Regions from separate parts of the Homo sapiens genome. Here all the other regions are reported to be linked to region 2. Evidence: microRNA targets listed by miRTarBase, many of them from high-throughput screens and not tested one by one. Region 2 holds a microRNA gene; each other region holds the end of a gene's coding sequence.
Evidence for each region. The annotated mature microRNA hsa-miR-548j-5p reads AAAAGUAAUUGCGGUCUUUGGU and lies in region 2 at 1,499-1,520, shown strand. An mRNA with a match to its seed (bases 2 to 7 or 8) in the 3' UTR can be bound and repressed. Matches are read on the target gene's strand: a 7mer-m8 pairs with bases 2 to 8, a 7mer-A1 pairs with bases 2 to 7 and ends in A, and an 8mer does both.

Region 1: miRTarBase lists BBS10 as a target of hsa-miR-548j-5p. Seed matches in the 3' UTR shown: 8mer at 2,273-2,280 and 7mer-m8 at 1,881-1,887.
Region 3: the mRNA of UBE2D1 is a reported target of hsa-miR-548j-5p. Seed matches in the 3' UTR shown: 7mer-m8 at 2,288-2,294.
Region 4: the mRNA of PTP4A1 is a reported target of hsa-miR-548j-5p. Seed matches in the 3' UTR shown: 8mer at 2,718-2,725.
Region 5: miRTarBase lists TMEM41B as a target of hsa-miR-548j-5p. Seed matches in the 3' UTR shown: 8mer at 2,169-2,176 and 7mer-A1 at 2,374-2,380.

Annotation. Positions count from the first base shown.
Region 1 is chr12:76,343,365-76,346,364 of GRCh38, forward strand. It overlaps BBS10 (Bardet-Biedl syndrome 10), which reads right to left. Exons shown (of 2, transcript NM_024685.4): 2 at 1,110-3,000. The coding sequence ends at 2,449. Among named protein-coding and RNA genes, the nearest start is that of BBS10, 3.6 kb to the right of the region's middle.
Region 2 is chr22:26,553,794-26,556,793 of GRCh38, reverse strand. MIR548J (microRNA 548j) reads left to right here and starts at 1,471; the gene lies at 1,471-1,582. The region is part of intron 1 of TPST2 (tyrosylprotein sulfotransferase 2); the gene reads left to right. RefSeq lists an enhancer at 38-1,007.
Region 3 is chr10:58,368,531-58,371,530 of GRCh38, reverse strand. It overlaps UBE2D1 (ubiquitin conjugating enzyme E2 D1), which reads right to left. Exons shown (of 7, transcript NM_003338.5): 7 at 783-2,811. The coding sequence ends at 2,766. Among named protein-coding and RNA genes, the nearest start is that of TFAM, 15 kb to the left of the region's middle.
Region 4 is chr6:63,579,694-63,582,693 of GRCh38, forward strand. It overlaps PTP4A1 (protein tyrosine phosphatase 4A1), which reads left to right. Exons shown (of 6, transcript NM_003463.5): 6 at 364-3,000. The coding sequence ends at 481. It overlaps LOC128125822, which reads left to right. Exons shown (of 2, transcript NM_001415059.2): 2 at 1-3,000. Among named protein-coding and RNA genes, the nearest start is that of PTP4A1, 8.7 kb to the left of the region's middle.
Region 5 is chr11:9,280,708-9,283,924 of GRCh38, reverse strand. It overlaps TMEM41B (transmembrane protein 41B), which reads left to right. Exons shown (of 7, transcript NM_015012.4): 7 at 332-3,217. The coding sequence ends at 501. Among named protein-coding and RNA genes, the nearest start is that of TRL-CAA5-1, 7.1 kb to the right of the region's middle.

The sequences.
Region 1 (3,000 bases), not on the chromosome of region 2:
AATGGCTCATGCTGGCCCAATGAGAAAAAATAAGAAGGTCTATAAAGGTTATTGGAGAAAATGTGTTTGTGGGAGGTGGATCGACATGTAACTTAATAATAAAAAGAAACGCAGTTGAGAAGTTAATGCGTATTTGTCTTTTCCCTCCCATGGTGTAGCAGATTGTATTTTCCAAAGATAGCTGCCTCAATATATCCCATCCCACATGCTCTTATGATGTGACACTGACACTGTTCCCATTGAGTGGTGGGGCCTGCATTCTTCTCCTTTGAACCTCAGGTGATGCTTATGACTGCTCAAACAACAGAATGCAGTGAAAGTTGTCCAGTTAAGCCCAGTCAACCCCCAGAACCACAAGTAAATAACATAATGATTCAAAAAAACTAAGTTTTGGGATTATTCATTATGCAGCAGTAAAAAATAGAAACATGATCTTGATTTTGATTTTAACTGGCCTTTACATTTTCCTTGGTCTTGATTCTTTAATTTTCATTCAGATTTTACTGTAATTTTGTCTGTTCCTTTTCTTGGGTGGGGATGGTCTGTTCTTATTGCAGGTCACTTCACATCCTTTGTGGTAGAGGGTATAAGTATAATGTAATTACATTTTTAAAAGTGCTTTCCTATCTAACTCAGTGATGTAAACTCTCTAGTGTTATTCTGTAAATAAGGATAAATCCATGAAAGTTTTACCACCATTTTTGAGGGGTTTCTTTTAATGAAAAGGAAAAGGATTACTTTGTGTAGATCTGTTCTACACTTTCTGCTCCTCCCCAAAATAGATCCTTTGCCCATGAAAGTTTATAGAAATTATAATCTCATCTATGAGGACCAAATGACAGATTCATTCAACAAATAGGCCCTCAATAGGCATCTATTGTGTGTAAGATATTAGACCAAGTGCCAAACGTACAAAGACCCAGTCCTACCTCAACAGGGCTCCTGGACTAGTGACTATACCTATTAAATGCTTATCATATGCAAAGCACTGGGCATGTCTGGAAGTCATTAAATGCTTACAGTAATGGAGGAGTGTTTTAAACAACCACAAAAAAAGCAAAGTGACCAAATGACCTGAAAGGCAATTAAAAAAAAAATGAAAAAAATTATGCAGCAGTTTTAAAGTTCATTCATCCATGAATTCAGCAAAAGAGCTAATTTATTCTCTCCATATTCACAGAAACAAAATAATGCATCATATAGCATAAATGTTTAAAAAATCAGAATTACATTTAATATAAAAAATTTTGATATTATAGTTTTTAAAATACATTAGTCAACACTTATTCAACTATAATTAAAGTTTTTTTTCTTCAGTCAATCCCAAGTAAGAATCTGTTGAATAAGTAAACTGGAAACATGTATTTAAAGGAATGAATTAAAGATAACACTGTTTTGTTCAACAAGCACTTCTGAATACTTGGAGTAAATACAGCACTGTTTTGGGTATTACAGAGAACTGATAAAGGTAGAAAACACTGTCCTTGTCCATGATAAGATGCATCATATTATTTACATTGACAAGTTTTTAAAATATGAACATTTGTAAATGAAATAAATTAGAAATAAAAATTAAAAATAAAACAGAAATAAACATTAGAAATAAAAATTGTCAAATTATTTGTTACTGTGGAACTCTGGCTATGCACCAGATACAAGAAAAACCAGTAAATACATGACATATCCTTACAAGCTCTTGGGGTCAGGAGAAAATCAAAGTATTAATTGCATATCCTTTCTAGTATTAACCTTTTACTACAGAAATGAAAGAGTTAACAATGCACAGTTATATTTCAGGTAACATATATTCAAAGGTATATCAAAGGTGAAAATCTATCCAAGTTTTCCAAATGAAGTGGCAGTAAACCAATGACCACATAAAAGTAAAAATTAATTTTATGCTTTTTGAAAAAAAATTTGAGCCTTTTACTCACTGCTAATTTAATTTTATGCTTTTTGAAAAAAATAATTTGAGCCTTTTACTCAGCTTTACAAAGTATGAGTAGGGAAAATTAATGCAAATAATGTATTCAATATTAAAAACAATTAGAATAAGCCCACCCAAATCAGAGATTAAATGATTCTATGAACTAAACATGTAACGATGAAGGAGGGCTGGAGTGAAAAAGATACAGGAGAGTAAAAAGGAGCTATAAAGAAAAACCCTCCCCTAAACACATAGGCTAACACAGAGCTGAGACACAGAGGCATAAAATAGGGAAAAAACAGACACACTTAGCCAAATCTTGGCTTCCCCTCTAGATTTGTTCCATAAAGTAATTTAATATTTGTATCTGGTCTGGTGACCTTAGTGTGCTTCTTCTAAAGACTTTTAAAGTTACGCTATTTTCCTAAGTAGACTGAACTGACTTTAGAACCAGTGGTCACATGACTGCTTTACTTGGCTTGAGTTAGATGAAAAGTTTGGTTAATTAAAAACTTCTGATGTTATAGTTCATCTTCTGAATCTTGATTGTGAACTTTCTGAGGGTGTCTCTTAACAGTGATTACCATGTCAATGGTTAATATTTTTGTCAAACACTGAAGAACTGAAGTTAGTAGCTGGTATTTACCCATTACTGATTCCAAACCTGTCTGACTGCTTACCAAGGGTTGATTGGTTTGCAGTGCATGGACAGCTCTTATATATGTATGTGGAAAGCTGTACTTTCCTGTTTTAGATTTATAAAGGACTTTGGGAATGCCTAAAAGTGCATTAGCTATTATCATACTAACCATGGTTTCTTCTGATTGATGGCATTTTTTGGCATAATTGAGAAGATAGTAATGTAACAAGATCTCAAAATTACCACCTACTGGCAAAACACAACCAGCTGGCATAGATGAGGAAAGGTAACTCTGGGAAGTACCCATATTCGGTAACTTACAGCTCACTGGTAACATGCTTCCCTTTCTAGTAATATTTGTGACCTGTAAATTTTCGTAAGAAATTTCTATTCTATTTCCCCTTGTTGAATAAGCAGTGGAATTGTTCTTGAG
Region 2 (3,000 bases):
AGACTCCTGAGGCAGGACCATGGCTCCCTGGCCCTAACAGCCATAGATTTTGTGTCCATAACGGAGCCAGATGCTGGCAGCGATTCTTAATTGGGGTTCCAGGCTGCATTCGGGGGCCTAGGAATTTGGATGAGGGGAAAATTACATCTTTATTGACCCTAGTTTAACATTTCCTCCAGGTGACAACATAGGTGATAAATCACAGTAGTAGTGGCAGCACTCGCATCACCAGTAGAAACCACACTTTTTTTTTGAGATGGAGTTTCGCTCTTGTCGCCCAGGCTAGGGTGCAATGACGCGATCTCGGCTCACTGCAACCTCTGCCTCCCAGATTCAAGTGATTCACCTGCTTCAGCCTCCCAAGTAGCTGGGATTACAGGTGGCTGCCACCACGCCTGGCTAATTTTTTTGTATTTTAGTAGAGACGGGGTTTCACCATGTTGGCCAGGCTGGTCTTGAACTCCTGACCTCAGGTGATCCGCCCACCTCGGCCTCCCAAGGTGCTGGGATTATAGACATGAGCCACTGCTCCTGGCCCATATTTTTATATCACATTTTAGGTGCCACAGATGTGTCTGCTTGCAGATGACAGTGATTATTCTGTCTGCTACTAGATCTTGTTATTGATTGCTTTAATAAAGGAGCAGATAGGTTACAGATAATATTTCACAGCAATTTTTGTAATCACATTCTTAGCCAAAGTTTACTATGTTGGTTTCCTTTTCATCCTGTATATTTTATTGTATTCCATTTAAAAGCATTATTCTGGGAAGGGGCCCATAGATTTCACCAGATGGTTGAAGAGATCCATGGCACAAAATGGTGGAAGAACCCATTAGACCTGGGTTTGAGTCCTCATGCTGCCCTGCACCTGCTGTGTGAGTGTGAGCAGAGTGTGAGCAGCCCATTCCGCCTCTGGATTTCTTATTCATGATCCAGCCAGAGAGGGGCTGTCTCCCCCACAGGGTTGCCGTGGGAGGCCTGCAGTGGGAGTCGATGCCACTTTGTTGTGGTGCCTGTCTGTTGGGTGTTATTAGGTCTTCTGGGCAGGACGTGACACTGGGTGCTCCAGCGTGCCCTGAACGTGTTCCCACCGCCTCCTGCACACCCCAGTCTGTCTGGGCATCCATCCCACTGGGTTGATTGTCTGCCGGCTCAATGGCCGTGACACTCATTATGGGCAGGACTGTGTCCGTCCTAATAAATAATGGTACAGAATTGTAGCTGATGCCTCTGAGCTCACACTCTTTGCCAGCTTCACAACAGCTCCACAAGGTAGGTGCCGTTTTCAGACTTATTTTGGAAATGTTAAACGTTATAACAGGTGAGTGAGGCTCAGAGACAAGAAGTCACTGGCTCAAGGCCACTGGTGAGTGGCCACACCAAGATCGCCTGGGTCTGTCCAACTTTAGGTCTACACTCCTGACCCCTGCACTCCACGATGATTGCATTCCTGAGCCTGGCCCAGGTGGGCAGCCAGTGAATAGTTAGCTGGTGCAAAAGTAATTGCGGTCTTTGGTATTACTTTCAGTGGCAAAAACTGCATTACTTTTGCACCAGCCTACTAGAACGCTGAGTTCAGTGCCTTAAGCGGTGTTTCACAGAGAGGGAGCAAGGGGCAGCGCTTGTTAAAATGCAAATTCCCTCAGCTCCACGTTAAAATGCAAATTCCCTCAGCTCCACCTTGCCTCTTCCAAATCAGAATATTTGAGGGCAGGCCCCAGGAAATCTGCCTTTTAAAGTTTTGGGCTATTCAGAAGCACACCAAAGTTTAACCACTACCCTAAAGGGAAGGAATAACAGTCAGGTAGTAACAAAGCTCTGTTCTGAGTGCTTTATGTGAGTTTATTTATTGTGAGACAGAGTCTTGCTGTGTCACCCAGGCTGGAGTGCAGTGGCGCCATCTTGGCTCACTGCAACCTCCTCCTCCTGGGTTCAAGCAATTCTTGTGCTTCAGCCTCCCAAGTAGCTGGGATTACAGGCATTCACCACCACGCCTGGCTAATTTCTGTATTTTTGGCAGAGACGGGGTTTCACCATGTTGGCCATGCTGGTCTTGAACTCCTGACCCCAGGTGATCCGCCCACCTTGGCCTCCCAAAGTGCTGGGATTACAGGCATGAGCCACTGCAAGTTTATTTATTTAGTCTTCACAAGTGTTAATGGCCTCCCCATTTCACAGATGAGGAAAGTGAGGCACAAAGTAGTTAGATAACACCTCCCCACTGACCCCCAACCCAGGGCTGCATTGCTAGGAATCAGCCAGGTGTGGAGGATTCCTGCCCCTATGCTCAGTCCCCTACCTCTGACAGCTTCTGGACAGAGGAGTAGAGACGGGATCCCATGGTGGGTGGGGGTGAGGGCTCAGGAAGCACTGGTCCCTACAAGATCACGCTGGCCCTTTCCTGTTTGCCTTGTTTACCAGGCAGGGGCCCTCTGTGTTTCTGGGCAGGAAGTCCTGAGCAGGGGCTGTGCCAGGTGTCAGGGGCAAGACTGGGAGATGGTCCAGGAGTCTGAGCCGGGCACTACTCTGAGCAGCTGTCTGACCTGGGGCACATAGCTTCCCCATCTGTGTATGGGGTGGGGTCGAGATTTGGAAGAGGTAGTTAAGAGCTTGGGTTCCGGCATCAGATAGACCTGAGTTCCAGATCAAACTCAGCCACTTATCATCTGTGTGATCTCCAACAAAGCACTTCACCTCTCTAAGCCTCAGTTTCCCCTTCTGTAAAACGTGGCTAATAATAATAGTGCCTACCCTCCAAGCCTGTCATGAGGGTCAAAATATATTGTTGGCTGTCCGTCTTCTTGGGTTCTGCATGCGGGGATTCAGCCGACAGTGGATCAAAAATATTCGGGAAAAAATGGGTGGTTGCATCTGTACTGAACATGAACAGAGCTTTTTTGTCCTGTGATTGTTCTCTAAACAATACAGTGTAACAACTACCTACATAGCATTTAGATTGTATTAGGTAGTATAATTGATCTAGCACTGATTTAAAGT
Region 3 (3,000 bases), not on the chromosome of region 2:
GATATAGTTTCATGACCAATAATTTCTTTTAATTTGGGAGGAAAATTAATTTCCTTAATCTCTCCATTTAAAAAATACAGAACTGTGGGAGAGCAGGATCTTGACAAACATCAATGACTGAATCATTAGATAGATCACTGTGATAAATAAGAAAAATTTAAAACTGCAATGTATTATTTTTTTCTTATGAAAAGTAACTTTTGAACGTTAACTCTTAGAGTTGTCCTTGATATGCAGTTCATTTATAATTTTTAATTTTCCCTATCAGCGTTTAAAAGGGGTGAAACAGGGAAATAATGCAAAAATTAATAAATAAGGTTGACGGAGGCATATATGTAAAGCTTGTACTTCAGGAATTGTACGCTTTTGAGATAGTTGGAGGATGGTGGTGAGGCTGCCCCTTACAACCCATGTCACTGATGTGGGTAACTGCTGTATATGGCAGTTATAAGCGTTCAGAATCCAATTTGAACATGGTTTTCAACTATGCAACTTCAAGAAGTGGGATCCTAAATCCCCAAAAGACTACCTATTTCTCTCACTCCAAGGAAGTCCTTAAATTAATGCTTAATCCACAAAAGGCCCTGACTTTTATTCTACAGTTTTAAAAGGTAACTGATGTTCTCCTTGTTAGAGTTAAGCAAAAATAATATACCCAAAATGGTGTTCTGACCGATCATGACGCCACTATGGAACTCAAGGTTTTTAGCTAATTATGAGAACTTCTGCTTACTCCTCAAGTCCAGTACAATCCAGATGTAAGCAAAGGCAAACAAGTTAGGCAAGTTTCAAAAACTTTAATAAAGAAAAAAAAGAAGACACTTCCAAAAATAAATGCCACACAAATGAAAGTTGTTTTTTTTTTTTGTTTAAAGTGAAGATATTCAAGAAACAAAACCCTTTACTATCAAAATATACTAAATATTTAAATCTAGTGATGTTGAGTGTTCAAATTCAGGGCAAATGTAGCTTATAATAATATAGCTAAGTAGAATTTTTCATGATATGGCTGTTTTAAGACATCATTTTATAGATTTACTTTTTAAGCCTATATTTTCTTAAACATCCATTTCACAATTCATTTAATTATTTTACATTCATTTATAAAAACACATATTTTCTAACAATAGGTTATTTTGTGCTTTAATAATAATGAACCATGACAAAATACTCAAGTGATTTAAATGCTTTGCTAATGACTACACCCATCACATATTCTTACATACTTCTACAGCTACTGCAATAATCAGAAGGGCTACAACTGTTCTTAAAAATGACACTCACTCAAGGTTGACAAGCATGCTAAACATTAAAGAGATGTATTTTTCCCCAAGTTAAAACATTAAAACTTTCTAGTTTTCTTTAAAATCTATAAAGATAACCTGCTTATTTAAATCACTTTTCGATGGCAACTTATAAAAACAGAGGGAGGCATAATTTTAGAACTTCCTTTGTAACTTCTATAGTAAAAAAAAAAAAAAAGTTTTTCAAATTGTGATGGCATTAAATTCCATTTTAGAAATTCTAGATTTTAAAATGTTAAGAAATGTAATGTCAATTACATCAGGGTGGGGGCATTTTAATGAATTAATCTAGTGACTGTGCAGGTCTATAAAGACCTTTCTTTTGGATGGGTGATACTGCCTTATACTCATTTCAGTACTTTTAACAAATAATCCATTTAGATATAATCCAAGACAAACCCCAAATTACTCTAAATTCTCCTCTACAGCAAGGGATCAACATATATTATCTTATAGACTGACAATTTAGTAAAGAGATACTAACCTAAAACAATAAAATTTATATAACTAATGGTGACTAATGGCAAACAAAATAGATCTGATTTTCACAATTTGGATGTAATTTTCATGCAAAATTTTAGAGTTTTGATCCTTACTTATATTTTTATTTTTTTAAGTAATCAAGACAAATAGTAGAAAAAGCATTTTATTTATATGGAAAAAGCTACAGTAAGATCTGTAAAAGGTGTCAATATAATATTGCCTATACAGGAAAAAATTCAAATGTGAATAGCAACAAATAAAAGTTACACATCTTCCTACTTAGCAGTGCAATTAATTCACATTGCAATAAAGTTAAGTCAAGTATAACAAAATCAAAACAAGTGTTTCTCCATAATCAGTATGCTGAGAATTACAGTGTAAAGATCATTTCAGATTTAAGAAATCTGCAATCAATCTACAGAATATCCTAAGACAAGGGAGACACAGTTAATTCACTTAATTATCAGCCGTTGGGGTTTTTCAATACTGTTCACAGGAAAAAAGTAATGAGTTGACATACATGTAAATAGAATATATTTAGTCTATACAGTAAAAAAATACAAATTATAAAGTGAGCTAACAAAGAATGAAATCTGAATACAGATTTATAAAACTGACATCTTAGACAACACATACAGTATTTCTCATGTAAAAACATCTAGTTTCAGCAAAAAATAATTTGGTTGCTTTTCAGCTGCATTGTAGATCTTGTAAGCTGAAGATGCAGATGTCCAAGTATCTTAAAAACCATAATAAATGTCTTTCTCAATGCATACAAAATGATAAATGCTCTCATCACAGTCTTAAGGGTATTTTTGGAAGTTTGTTTTGTCTTGCTTCAGAAACACATTTAAAATGGGTAAAAATCAAATGGTTTCATGGTACAATGAAACAGTAAACAGTGCTCAATTTACTGCTAATGTTGAAAAAAACCTAGATTTTACAGTACTCTGGTATATATGAAAATGTTTTTGATTTTTACATTGCATATTTCTGAGTCCATTCTCTTGCATGTCTGTTGTATCTGTAGATACACAAAAAGGATATAGTAAAAACATACAAAATTAATATTTCAGAAGCATCTGTCTAATAAAACTATATATTCTACCTTCTTATACTTAATTGCAATAATCACACATATATCAATTACTGGGTCAATGTGACTTAGGTTCATGCAGAAATAAAACAGGAAAAATAATTTTTTAACTCATGG
Region 4 (3,000 bases), not on the chromosome of region 2:
ATAGAATATTTTGAGTGCTGTAGAACATGCCTTTGTGGCTTTTGTAGTCATCTTCCCTGCTACCAGAGGCAACTTCTGACTTCACTATAAATTAGTTTTGTCTTTTCGTGGACTTACGTGTAAATGGATTTGTGAGTCGACTGTTGTAACCAATACTCAAACGAAGATATAAAGAAAATTAACTTTTTATGATTTTTTCCATTTACACTGATGTGCCTGTTCATATTCCTTTCTGCATCAGGTCACAGCCTAATTAATCAAAAGATAAATTGCCACAAGAGAGGTGATGGTTGTCTATAAGACACTAAATATTACTGTAGGGGGCTTTTGCCTTGTTTCATTTTTTTTTTTTTTTCCTCCCAGAAAGCGGCGTGGAGCTTTTAACAGCAAGCAACTTCTGTATTTGGAGAAGTATCGTCCTAAAATGCGGCTGCGTTTCAAAGATTCCAACGGTCATAGAAACAACTGTTGCATTCAATAAAATTGGGGTGCCTAATGCTACTGGAAGTGGAACTTGAGATAGGGCCTAATTTGTTATACATATTAGCCAACATGTTGGCTTAGTAAGTCTAATGAAGCTTCCATAGGAGTATTGAAAGGCAGTTTTACCAGGCCTCAAGCTAGACAGATTTGGCAACCTCTGTATTTGGGTTACAGTCAACCTATTTGGATACTTGGCAAAAGATTCTTGCTGTCAGCATATAAAATGTGCTTGTCATTTGTATCAATTGACCTTTCCCCAAATCATGCAGTATTGAGTTATGACTTGTTAAATCTATTCCCATGCCAGAATCTTATCAATACATAAGAAATTTAGGAAGATTAGGTGCCAAAATACCCAGCACAATACTTGTATATTTTTAGTACCATACAGAAGTAAAATCCCAGGAACTATGAACACTAGACCTTATGTGGTTTATTCCTTCAATCATTTCAAACATTGAAAGTAGGGCCTACATGGTTATTTGCCTGCTCACTTTATGTTTACATCTCCCACATTCATACCAATATACGTCAGGTTTGCTTAACCATTGATTTTTTTTTTTTTTTACCAAGTCTTACAGTGATTATTTTACGTGTTTCCATGTATCTCACTTTGTGCTGTATTAAAAAAACCTCCATTTTGAAAATCTACGTTGTACAGAAGCACATGTCTTTAATGTCTTCAGACAAAAAAGCCTTACATTAATTTAATGTTTGCACTCTGAGGTGCAACTTAACAGGGAGGGCCTGAGAAAAGAATGGGAGGGGGCTATTAATTATTTTTAGCAAAATGTTGCCTTTGTCTTGTGCAAACATGTAGAATATGCTCTTTAATTTAGTAAAATATTTTTTTAAAAGGTAGAGATGCTTTGTTATTGTAATCATAAACTTCCTGAAATTCTTGTAATTTTTTTCCCATACTTATCAGAAGTGTGTTTACCAACTTATTTTTGTTTGAAAGTGTGATTTTTTTTTTCCTTCCCAACCTCTCTTGCAAAAAAAGAAATGGGTTTCTGCTAATGAATTGAGCAGACATCTAATATTTTATATGCCTTTTGAGCTGTGTAACTTAATATTTGGATACTTGACAATTTGTTTTATTATGTAATTGATAAAATGGTGATGTGTATTAATGTTAGTTCAACCATATATTTATACTGTCTGGGGATGTGTGGTTATAGTTCTGTGGGAGAAATAATTTTGTCAGTGTTCACCAGCTTGTAAAAACTTAGTGCGAGAGCTGAAACATCTAAATAAATAATGACATGCATTTATCATCATTGAGATTGGTTTGCTTAAAATTAACTTATTTTGTAGAAGACAAAATGAATTGCACTTCACTTAATGTGTGTCCTCATCTTTTTACAAATAAATGAAGGATTATAAATGATGTCAGCATTTTAGTAAACTTTTAGACAAAATTTGTTAGGGTCATTCATGAAAACTTTAATACTAAAAGCACTTTCCATTATATACTTTTTAAAGGTCTAGATAATTTTGAACCAATTTATTATTGTGTACTGAGGAGAAATAATGTATAGTAGAGGACAGCCTTGGTTTGTAAAGCTCAGTTCCACTAGTTCATGGTTTTGTGCAACTTCTGAGCCTCAGTTTTCTCCTTTGCAAATTAATAATTACATACCTTTATAGATTTTGAAATTAATTTAAATATTAGTATTTGGTACATGAAGGCTTAATGTTAAGTTTCCTTTAATGATCCACAATAATCCCTTTGATCACGTTAATCTAAATCTAGATGTCTTTGTCTAATTTTTTTTGAATAGCAGTTATAAATGTAAAGGACTCAAAGTTTAAGTAAAAAGTGATACTCCACCTTGTGTTTCAAAGAATTTAGTTCCACCTCTTCATACCAGTTTAACACTTAATATATTTCATTGGATTTTAGACAGGGCAAAAGGAAGAACAGGGGCCTCTGGAGGCCCTTGGTTATTTAAATCTTGGATTATTTGTGATAGTAATCACAAATTTTTGGCTAATTTTTAACCTGAGGTTTTGTTTTTTTTTTAAAGGAAATGCAGCCTAGTCTTGAGAACATAATTTTATATAATCAATTACTAAATGTTAAACTATTACCACACAGCCCATAAAACAGCATTTGCGTTTATTGAGAGAGAGGATGTGCCATCATGATTAATGAAAACTATCTTTTGAGTTTGAAAAGAAATTAATTTGCAGTGTTTGGATTGTATATATGGTGCTAAAAATAAATTAATTTACTTTATAAACCTTATCTGTACATTATACGATGTGATGAAATTTGCTTTTTATCCAAATATTTTGTATCTTGTAAATATGGCTAATTATAGGAATGCCTATAATACATCTTAGATTCCTTATATCTAATAAGAGTTCAAAGAGTTATGAGTTGAAGTCTTGAATGCAGGAAACTATCTGATAGTGTTCTAAAATTTGGTTACTTGGGTTTGGATACCCTTAGTGGGATGATGTAAATAGAGGCTAGCTACCTAGGCTTGTCTATAGCAACCATAATGTTGA
Region 5 (3,217 bases), not on the chromosome of region 2:
TAATCCCAGCTACTCGGGAGGCTGAGGCAGGAGAATTGTTTGAACCCGGGAGGCGGAGGTTGCAGTGAGCCAAGATCGCGCCATCGTGTTCCAGCGGGGGCAACAAGAGCGAAACTCCGTCTCAAAAAAAAAAAAAATCATTATCCTTAAGAGGTGATTAGGAAAGATTGAATTCTTTATATGGAAATAAACTTGAGCTTTAAATTCTTAATTTTTTTTCCAAAATGGAAATAGCTGTGTTGTTTTAAGAAACTTTATGCACACAGAACATTTTAATTTTTTAAAAACAATTGCGGTGGTTTTTACTGTATCTTTTTATATTTTATTTCAGGTGTCGCACCTCCTTCTTTTGTAGCCATTAAGGCAGGAACAACACTGTATCAACTTACAACAGCAGGAGAAGCTGTTTCCTGGAACTCAATATTTATTCTGATGATCTTGGCTGTTCTTTCTATTCTGCCAGCCATCTTCCAAAAAAAACTAAAGCAGAAATTTGAGTAAAAATAATCATCTGATTTTTAGTTTTGCTGTCATCACCATCTCAGGATTAACAGGTGCATCCATTTATGTTTTAAAATCACCTCTTCAGTAATTAAACAAGGAATTTGTAAAATAAAATTTCCTATCAGATAGTTAAAGTAATACATTTAAGTGACAAGGGGAGAAGAAAGTAAAAATGGAAATTGGTATACTGTGAAAAGTGCTATCAATAGTTAAGGTAGACATCTTAGACATCTTATAAATTATTATACCAAGGGTAGCTGTAGATAATAGTAGTGTGGTAGGAAATTGTTGATCCAGCTAATTCATTCAATTTAATTGAATATTTTTTATCTTTAATAACTAAAATAGATATTTTTAAATTCTAGATTTTTTAAAGTAGTGTTGCAGGTTTTGTTAATGTTAGGCTTTTTTCAGAGCATAAACTGGAAAACTTAAAAAGAGATTTACATTTTCTTCCTCTTTTTTTTTTTTTTTTTTTTTCTGTTTTGAGACGGAGTCTAGCTCTGCCGCCCAGGCTGGAGTGCAGTGGCGCGATCTCCACTCACTGCAAGCTCCACCTCCTGGGTTCACGCCATTCTCCTGTCTCAGCCTCCTGAGTAGCTGGGACTACAGGCGCCCGCCACCATGCCCAGCTAATTTTTTTGTATTTTTAGTAGAGACGGGGTTTCACCGTGTTAGCCAGGATGGTCTCGATCTCCTGACCTCGTGATCTGCCCGCCTTGGCCTCCCAAAGTGCTGGGATTACAGGCGTGAGCCACCGCGCCTGGCCCATTTTCTTCCTCTTTTGAGGTAATGGATTTGTTTGGAGATGGCATGTTAGTAGACGACTGAATATGGAAAGGATATCAAGTTATCTATTTTGTTAATTTTATTTTTGTTTTTTATCATCTAGATTTTTATCATGGATTAGTCTGAAATTTAAAGTTCTGGCCAGTCGGTTTTCTTTCATCTTGTAGTTTTTACAGTATTTCCACTGTGCATATGCAAAATGGGTATTACATAACTGTATCATATTTGGTATTGATAATTTTTTTTTTTTTTGAGACGGAGTCTTGCTGTTGCCCAGGCTGGAGTGGAGTGCGTGGTGTGATCTCGGCTCACTGCAAACTCCGCCTCCTGGGTTCAAGCGATTCTCCTGGCCCAGCCTCCTGAGTAGCTGGGATTACAGGTGTGTGCCACCGTGCCCAGCTAATTTTTGTGTTTTTAGTAGAGACGGGGTTTCACCATGTTGGCCGGGCTGGTCTTGAACTCCTGACCTCAGGCTATATGCCCACTTCCACCTCCCAAAGTGCTGGGATTACAGGCATGAGCCACTGTGCCCAGCCTGGTATTGATAATTTATATTCAGATAATTTGTTATGGCTCTTTAATATCCCACAAGGGGCTCTAAAAAGCAAACATTCAAGAGTATGTAGTTTTTAGACATTAAGTTAATTATTTTAAACAGTGACAGCAAAACACAAGTGATTAAATATAGTTTATTTGTTCCAATGACTAAATTTTACCTCATTTATTAATCTGGTCATTAAGGAATATATTTAATAATATTATGTAATTATTCTTTTTATGCATGATACACCTAGAAAAATGCCTTTTGTTTCTATTGATGGCTTTGTTGTTTGGAGCTACTTTTGATTACTTATTGCAGTTTCCCAATTTAGTCTTTACTTTATCTAACTCACAAAGTAAAATTAACTGATCACATGGCAACTACTGTATTTAAATAGTTCTGGAAAAATGAAAGTGCTTTTTGCTGCTTGGTAAATGGGTAATGCCCTTGATTCCTTGACTGTAGGACATAGCTGATCTAAAGTACTCTGTCAGTTTTACCTTCACCCATGACTGTTATTAGTTGTCAAAGTTGAAAAGTACTTTAGCTGTGAGAAATCCTTGTATGTTTTTATTATAAGAGGTATAATCATCCTCAAAGCCTGTTTTTATTACATGATGTGGACTGATTATTTTTTCTATCACAGTGTTAACAGATGGATTTTATTGTAAATACAAAGAAAACATATTGATTATTGTAGTATTCTTATGTCACCTGGCCTTTTGCGTGAGATTATTTATTATTTCTAGCAAGGCTTTCTTCCTTTCTTATTGCCCAGAGACTGACTGATACATCTTTTGTTATTTTTACACATAAATTAAACATAGCCTTTTTGGACAAATTCACTAAATATTAATGTATAAAATGTAATTGAGTAAATTTTTATCAGAATTTTAAAAATAAAAGAGCTTAGACTCAGTAGAACTCAGTAGAAGCTTCACTATTTACTCCAGCGTGTGTAAATTGTACTTACTCTATTCTCAGAGTATATTTACTGTCCTTACCATTGATTCTTTCCCTTTGCTAATTTTTTTTTTTGTTAATGGTAGCTGCGACTTTAGGTGGGGTATATTTTCTTCTCCTAAGAGAATAGACAGTTTTTCCAGATTCATCATCATTGACTGTCAAGAAAGGACCCTTCAGCAAGGCTGTACCCTCAATGCAGTTGATGGCCTGTCTTCACGGATTTACAGACTTGGCCTGATGCCCATGTAAATTCAAGCTTTGGCTTGTGGTAACAACCACAAGAAGACAAGCATCTGTGGTGCGGAGGCAAGCAGGCTAACTAGGAGTTGACAAGCTAAGAAAGTGAAACTGTTCTTTCTTAGTTAACTGTCTTTCTCTGGAGCTCTGTTATTTTGAGTATAATATTTCCATGACACT